Linked DNA regions of Homo sapiens. The protein of the gene in region 2 interacts with the protein of the main gene of each other region in a pairwise test. Each region holds a gene or a part of one and is shown on either strand. Other genes may lie near its edges.

Region 1 (3,750 bases), on a different chromosome or scaffold from region 2:
CCACCACATTGGCACAATTATCTTTTTAAGTAATTAAAGCAGGGCTCTGATTTCTCATCTTCTTGTTTTCTGACTGCAAGTTTACAAGAGCCCAGTTTTGTCTTATTTGGAGCTACTTGGAGCCATAGTTGGAGAGAGTTTGCCCTTGATTTATAGGATAAACTGACCTCACTGACATTTAAAGGAAGCCCCTGTTCATGGGAAAGTGTGAGATCAGCAGAAATGGGGGCTCACAGGGGGATCTCAATTTCTTAAGATAACTTCAAGCTTGTGCCCACCGACTGCCTTTTGTCTGGGAAGGCAAAGACAGACAGGCAGTTCTGGACCAAAACACAGTTTCCTGGTGCAAATGGGACTCAATCTAATTCTTGGGGGTGGTAGAGGAGGAGACATAGTGAAAAAAAAAAAAAAAAAAAAAGGCTGACAGAGTTTAAAAGAAAACTTTTCCTGCCTAGGGATCCTACCATCAGAGCAAATGTCAGTTGGGAAAGTATTGGAGAATGGAAAGGAGCAACTTTTCCTTTCAGATATTATTGTGATTTTGGATGCCAGCTTTAAACAACCCAGTTTGTGACACATTTGTGATTATAAAAATGATCATTTCTACAAAAATGCTCACTCTTTTAAAGCACTGTGTTAGATGGAAGTGTTTAAAATCAAGTTACAATGGCTTTGCCAAACCACTCCTCCACCCATAGGACCCAAAGACAAACATACATTGTTTGTAGCCTTCACATATCTCTTTGAAACTATACCTGGTCACTGAAAAATGCCAATAATTCAATATTCTCAACCCCAGGTATTATAGTAATTACTTTACACCATACAATTTTCTTTGCATCTCCACCAAGAACAGAAAGAATAACTGATGGCATTACACCTTAACACTTAATTTTACTTTCATTTTCTTAACCTATTTCATTTTCTCTTTCTTGTATATACATTTTTTAAACTCTTTCAGGAAAACCCTGCCACTAACACCCATGGCATGTATAGTGGTAATTGCAAGATTTATTTTTAAGTCATATGCACATATCACATATGTAATGTGTAGAGGTAGTGTATCAAGGGGAGCCCTATGCACACACAAAGCAGAAATCTGTGCATGTATATTTTGCACTGTATCGTGGGAATAATTTAGTTATTTGTTTGCAAAGGACAGTGCAGGTCTTTTTGTTCTCTATTGACATAAGTACCAGATCCCCACAGTGCAGTGAGCACCAGTGCAGGCACCCTTAGGTCAGACGCTCCTCTCTTTCTTTTCAGCCAGCCCCACTGCCAAATTGTTGTCAACCCCCAGTCGGCCTTGGGTTAAGAATGAGGAGGTGGAGAACGGCACGTGCAGCCTTAAGGGTTCCTTCTCCGATTTAGGTTTCTTCCACTCCTTTGCCCTGGGAGAGCAAAGGGGCGAAGGGAAATCAAAAACCGGTTGAAAAAGAAAAAAGTGTCTTCCCTCAGGCGTGGGTCAGAGAATTTGGAAAGGCCTACTCTGAGGGGAGTAAAACTTCACCAGGCCCTGGGCTGGAAGCACAGGAGGTCGCGGCTGGGCCCAGCGCCCTCGGGAGGCCAAGGGCAGGGAGCCGACCCAAGGTCTAAGCCCTCCAGCTCTCCGTCGCGGGTTTGGGTCCCGTCTCAAGAGTGGGGCGCGCGGGCTGGGCCTCCGGCCTGACACCCTCTCTTCTCTCCATCAGTGAGCGACAGCTCCCCCTACCACAGCCCCAAGGTGGAGGAGTGGAGCAGCCTGGGCCGCAACAACTTCCCCGCCGCCGCCCCGCACGCGGTGAACGGGTTGGAGAAGGGAGCCCTGGAGCAGGAAGCCAAGTACGGTCAGGTGAGGAGGCGAGGGTCAGGCCAGGTGGGCCGCGTGGCGGCGGGGATTTAGGCGATGGAACACTTTGTGATGGGTCCCTTTCTGAGCTTCCCGCGAGAGAAGCCCAGGCTGGCGTCCCTTTGCTGCTACGAGCCAGATCCTTCGTGGACTGGGGCGAAGCAGAGGCCTGAGCCTTGGAAGGCGGAGCTGGGGCCTCGACCCCCGCCAGGGGCCGGGAGCGCTCGTCAGGGCGCTGGGGGTCTGGGGCGGCAGCTCCCCGGGGCGAGGCTCTGGGAAGCGCCTCCAGGCCTGTCGGCCTCCGGGAGCTTGGGGAGGCGGCTCCCGAAGCCCTTTCGGCGGCTCTCGTTGGGGGTAGAGTTAACCAAAGAAGGCGCTTCTGAAGGGCCGAGCGGAGCAGCCCTGGGGCCTCAGAGCCGCGCCTTCACGCCCGCGAAACGCGCGCCCCGGGTCTCGGCCCCACGGTGCGACTGCGGCTGCGGGGTCCTCACGTTCGGACTTTCTCTCCGGTGGCTCTCGGACAAACACGCTTGGCCAATCCTGCGGAGAGGGGCACCCAGATAAACGTAACAAAGCTACCATTTTCTCGACTAAAGGTCACATTGTAATCTCCCAAGGAAGTTAGTGAGAAAACCTCAAATTATACGGACTGGCTGTGGACCGTTTAATTTTTCTTTCCCTCCGTCCCTCCCTCATGTCTCCAAAGGAAAATTTAAAACACTCGTGTTTTTATTTTCCCCCCGAGAAAAGCTAAACAACCACCACAACAAAAGCCCCAGATTTAAGTCTAAATTCATCACCGTCCTGGAGTCAAGAGTTCAAAACTCTCAAAAAACCGGACCTTAAGGCAATGTAAGGTTTCCCCAGCAGACCCCAGTAGGTTTGCAAATCTCTTAATCCCAAACTCAATTCCAAAGCCTCAAGCTATTCAGTTTTCCTTTTATTATTTTGAAGACTTAAAATTTTTAATGCTTTTTTGTCTGTCAAAATCAGCTTTTAAAATTAAGTGGAATTTGTTCCTCTTATTCACTTGAAAAAACATCTTAGTCATTATTTTCTGTAACAAATCCCATTTCCACTTCCTCTTCCCTCTCTTATTTTGTTGAAATAGAATCAGAATACATATTAGTGGCTCTCCAATGGCAAATAACACAGAAAATAGCAAGGAAAGAGAGCCCTTTTCCTTAGTCTGTTTCTACTGTGAAGAATGTCAATGAGAAATGATAAGGAAGTTTGTCATTTTCTTTTACTAAACGACCCACCCTTAATTCGTAATTTGCAAAGAAAAGGCAGAATAGTACAATGGTTAGGAGCTCCGATCTCTGGCTGTACGACTTCTTAGGAAAATATTTAATTTTTAGTCTCTATTTCTTCATCTTTAAAACAGGGAAATGATATTCCCAACCCAGAGATGTTATGAGTATTCAATGAGATAATGCAACCATATGGCACATAGTAAGCATTTATTAAGTATTGTCTGTGGTTCTAAGTGGCAGTTAAAAAGACACGTGTAAAAGTAAGTAATATTTATCAGAGTATACTTTGTTCTGAGAGACCATAGTCAAAAAGCTTCAAGAGATTTTGTTACAAACAATAGAAAGAGTGTATATAAAGCACCTACCATAGAAGCAAGCATTTAATAGGCGCTCAGTGCTTTTTATTAGGTCATCATTGATTGGAATAACATTGTGAAGTATAGAGTTGAAAAAGTTTCTAATTCCCACATGTCATTGATGAACCCAGTTTATATATCAAGCAGTCATAATCCCAAAAAAAACCCTTTATACTTATTATTTATTTATTTATTTTGAGACGGAGTCTAGCTCTGTCGCCAGGTTGGAGTGCAGTGGCGCGATCTCTACTTATTGCAGCCTCTGCCTCCCGGGTTCAAGCGGTTCTCCTGCCTCAGCCTCCTGAGTAGC
Region 2 (3,750 bases):
AACCAAACCAACGACTAAGAAACCCAGCCACACAGGTACAAGAGCATAATTCCGGAGTAATGAGACTAGTCCATAAATTAAAAAGAAGACAAGACAAACCCATCCCCTCCTCATCACCAGGCACCCCCCAAATCAGCAATTCCTTGCTTTTGTTCTGTGAGTCTTACAGAAGAGTCTAGACTCCGAGCCAGCCCTTTTCCCCAAAGTCAAATACTCCGAAGCCAATGTTGGGTACTTTCCTTCTCAGAACCCCCATTTGGACTGATGGACGGCTTCTGAGATGGTCACTGGACACGTCGTCTCGGCTGTGGGGCCCCTTCCTGGTGTCCAACATCTGGGTCTCTGGAGTTCTCGGTGGGGAGGTGGGGAAGGCGAGGGGGTCTGAGGGTGAGATGGCAGGTGGAGATGCTGCTGATCCTGCTATAAATACTCCAGCTCCAGGGCGTGCCTCAGTGCCTCCAGGTCTGCGTGGCAGGATATCCGCCAGAAAGGCATGTTGTGCTGAAACACAGAACACCAGCCACAAGGTTATGGCCCCGCCCCTGCCCCCGGGTTCCACGCCTGTGGTTAGAGGGCATGTGAGAAGTCAACCCAGTTAAGTCTAGCACGTGGGGACTTCCCAAACTATGGGGCACTTGATGTTGCTGGCAGACCCACATCTGGCCAGTACCCACCAGTATGGCCAACCATTTCTATTCAGAGCCTGCTCTGACGGGCTTATCCAGCACTGCCCAGCGTGTTCGCTGTTTGACCCTCTCGCCTCTGTTGGTACCAGCGTGGTCTTAGGCGGTGCACTGACATGGTGTTAAATTGCACAATGGGAAAGCGATTCCTTTTTAAAAATTTGTTCTTGCCTGGGCACTGTGGCCCACGTTTGTAATCCCAGCACTTTGGGAGGCTGAGGCGGGAGGATTGCTTGAGGCCGGGAATTGGAGGCTGCAGTGCTCTGAATCCTGTTACTTCAAGAAGAAAGTCACAGCTCGGTGCTGGAACCCCTCCCCAGCATTGACAGTCTCCACTGTGAACAAACAGAGCTGGTCTTGGAGAGTCTTCAGCAGGCCACTGTAGCTAGCCAGGTCAGATGACACTAATCTGTTTTCTTTATAGCTTTCGTTTTTATCTTTTCCTTTTCTTTGCAGCAGGTGGTACCTGCTTCAAGTTATTGTCATGATGTGGAGTTTTTTTTTTCTTTCTTTCTTTCTTTTGAGACAGGCTAGAGTGCAGTGACATGATCTCTGCTCACTGCAGCCTCAACCTCCCAGGCTCAAGCGATCCTCCTACCTTAGCCTCCCGGGTAGCTGGGACAACAGATGCATGCCACCACATCTGGCTAATTTTTGTATTTTTTGTAGAGATAGGGTTTCACCATGGTGACCAGGCTGGTCTCAAACTACTGGGCTCAAGCGATCCACCCACCTCAGCCTCCCAAAGTGTTGGGATTACAGGCATGAGCCATTGTGCCCAGCTGAATTTCGTTTCATTAATTTTTTTTTTTAATTTTAGAGATGGAGTCTCAGTTTGTTGTCCATGCTGGAATGCAGATCATGGCTCACTGCAGCCTTGATCTCTTGGGCTCAACTGATTTTCCTGACTCAGCCTCCTGAGTAGCTAGGGACATATCTAGGTAAATAGGAAAAAGGAAGGATGCAGGACAAATTGTATATATATGTGCATGTATATGGAAGAAAGAATGCTGGCGTTTCTCAGTAGTTTAAAAGATAATAAATAAGACTACCTTAGGAAGAATGTAAAGAAATCATTAAGGCAGGTGTAAATAAAATGTCATGGGAGCCAGCCAGAGGAAGCAGCCTCTTTTTTGGTAGAAGTGAATGGGATGGGGGTGTCTCAGGGGACAAGAAGCGCATGAGACCCAGACCTTGAAGAACGAATGAGGAGGCCGGGCGTGGTGGCTCACGCCTGTAATCCTAGGACTTTGGGAGGCCAAGGCGGGTGGACTACCTGAAATCAGGAATTTGAGACCAGCCTGGCCAACATGGTGAAACCCCATCTCTACTAAAATACAAGAATCAGCTGGGCGTGGTGGTGGCCACCTGTAATCCCAGCTACTTGGGAGGCTGGGGCAGGAGAATCACTTGAACACAGGAGGCAGAGGATGCAGTGAGTTGAGATCATGCCACTGCACTCCAACCTGGGCAACAAGAGTGAAACTTCATCTCAAAAAAAAAAAAAAAAAAAAAAAAAAAAGAATAAGTGCTTCATAGTTAGCAGGTCACTGAAGGGAAGGGCATCCCAGATTGAGAATCCCTCAGTGAGCAAAGGAAGATCTATAAAGATGCCAGGGGCAGACCCCAGTGGGGCCTTCTGTACAGGTCACAAACACTTATGGGGCTTTCATTGGAGGCTCAGATAAACCCACAGATAAGAAATAAACAAGATAAGTTCATCTCCTGGTAAGTGCTAGGAAGGAAACAGAATGAGATAGGGTAGAAAGCAGCTTTGTGTGTCTACTTTTGAGAGCTGGGTCAGGAAAGGCCTCTCCAGGGAGTGTCATTTAAGCAGGCCCTGGCAAAGATGTGGGGGAACGTGGGGGCAGGTAGAAGACACAGCAAGTGCAAAGGCCCCAGGAAGGTTGAGCTTGGAATGCAATGCTCATTGCTGCACCGCATGGCTCTTGACACATAGTAGGTGCTCAAGAAATATTCGTAGAAGGAATGAAAAGAGGAAGAGAGAGAGGGAAAAAAAGAAGGTAAGTTTCTCAAGCAAAGTCCTCTGAATGTATCCTTTTCTCTTTGTTCTGTAGTTTCTAAACAATTCTCAGCTCAAGGGAAGCAGAAAACCATCTCCTATGGGAACAGCTCTCATCTCTTCAACGCCTTCTCACTGCCCTAGCATTCCCACCCTGCCCTCATCCCGGCCAAGCCCTCCTTTCTTTGCAAAGATAGATTCTGGTTGCCACCTGGCCAATCCTGCCCTCTTTAAAGAGTGTAATTTGGCTGAGTGTGGTGGCTCACACCTCTAATCCCAGTACTTTGGGAGGCTGAGGTGGTCGGATCACCTGAGGTCAGGAGTTCGAGACCAGCCTGGCCAACATGGCAAAACCCCGTCTCTATTAAAATTACAAAAAATTAGCCACATGTGGTGGCTCATGCCTGTAATCCCAGCTACTCAGGAGGCTGAGGCACAAGAATCGCTTGAACCTGGGAGGTGGAGGTTGCAGTGAGCCGAGATCATGCTACTGCACTCCAGCCTGGGCGACACAGTGAGATTCTGTCTCAAAAAAAAAAAAAAAAAAAAAAAAAAAAAAAAAAAAAAAAAAGAGTGTGATTCATTTTTCTGGGAGAGAATGAGCAAAGGTGGAAGAAAGAGAATGTTCTAGCCGCCTTTACCCCAGGCTTAAAGGTTCCAGAGTGCCAGTGGATTCATCACTCGTGAAGAGGTGGAGACAAATCACCCACTAAAATGGAGATATTAACAACACTGTCAGCGGAAACAGTCAAGGCCCCTGGTCCTGCGGCCATATTTTACACCGCTCAGATTTCCGGTGGCCTGGGCTAATGACTTCCATTTGTCAGGCTGAGAGAGCTGCTGGTGGACACTGTTTCTCACTAACGTTCTGAGGCTTCTGCCTCAGACACTGGGACTTTTATGGGAGTTCTGTGTGTGGTGGGTGTGTACCTAGTCTTCTTTGGCTGACTCTACTCTTGCCTGACTAGCTCAGGGGTGAAAACCAACCGTGTTTGAAACTCGTAAGTCCGTCTCCTCCCTGCCAGGCGTTTGGAGCATGACACA

Evidence for each region. The genes of interacting proteins can lie anywhere in the genome.
Region 1: the proteins of EYA2 (region 2) and PAX9 interact in binary tests that used the Homo sapiens proteins (3 or more experiments, as listed by UniProt).

What each region holds. Positions count from the first base shown.
Region 1 is NC_000014.9:36,664,771-36,668,520, forward strand, and holds part of PAX9 (paired box protein Pax-9), read left to right. Parts: intron 1-1,691; coding exon 1,692-1,831; intron 1,832-3,750. UniProt on the Homo sapiens protein: Transcription factor required for normal development of thymus, parathyroid glands, ultimobranchial bodies, teeth, skeletal elements of skull and larynx as well as distal limbs.
Region 2 is NC_000020.11:47,184,804-47,188,553, reverse strand, and holds part of EYA2 (protein phosphatase EYA2), read right to left. Parts: intron 502-3,750; coding exon 421-501; 3' UTR 1-420. UniProt on the Homo sapiens protein: Functions both as protein phosphatase and as transcriptional coactivator for SIX1, and probably also for SIX2, SIX4 and SIX5.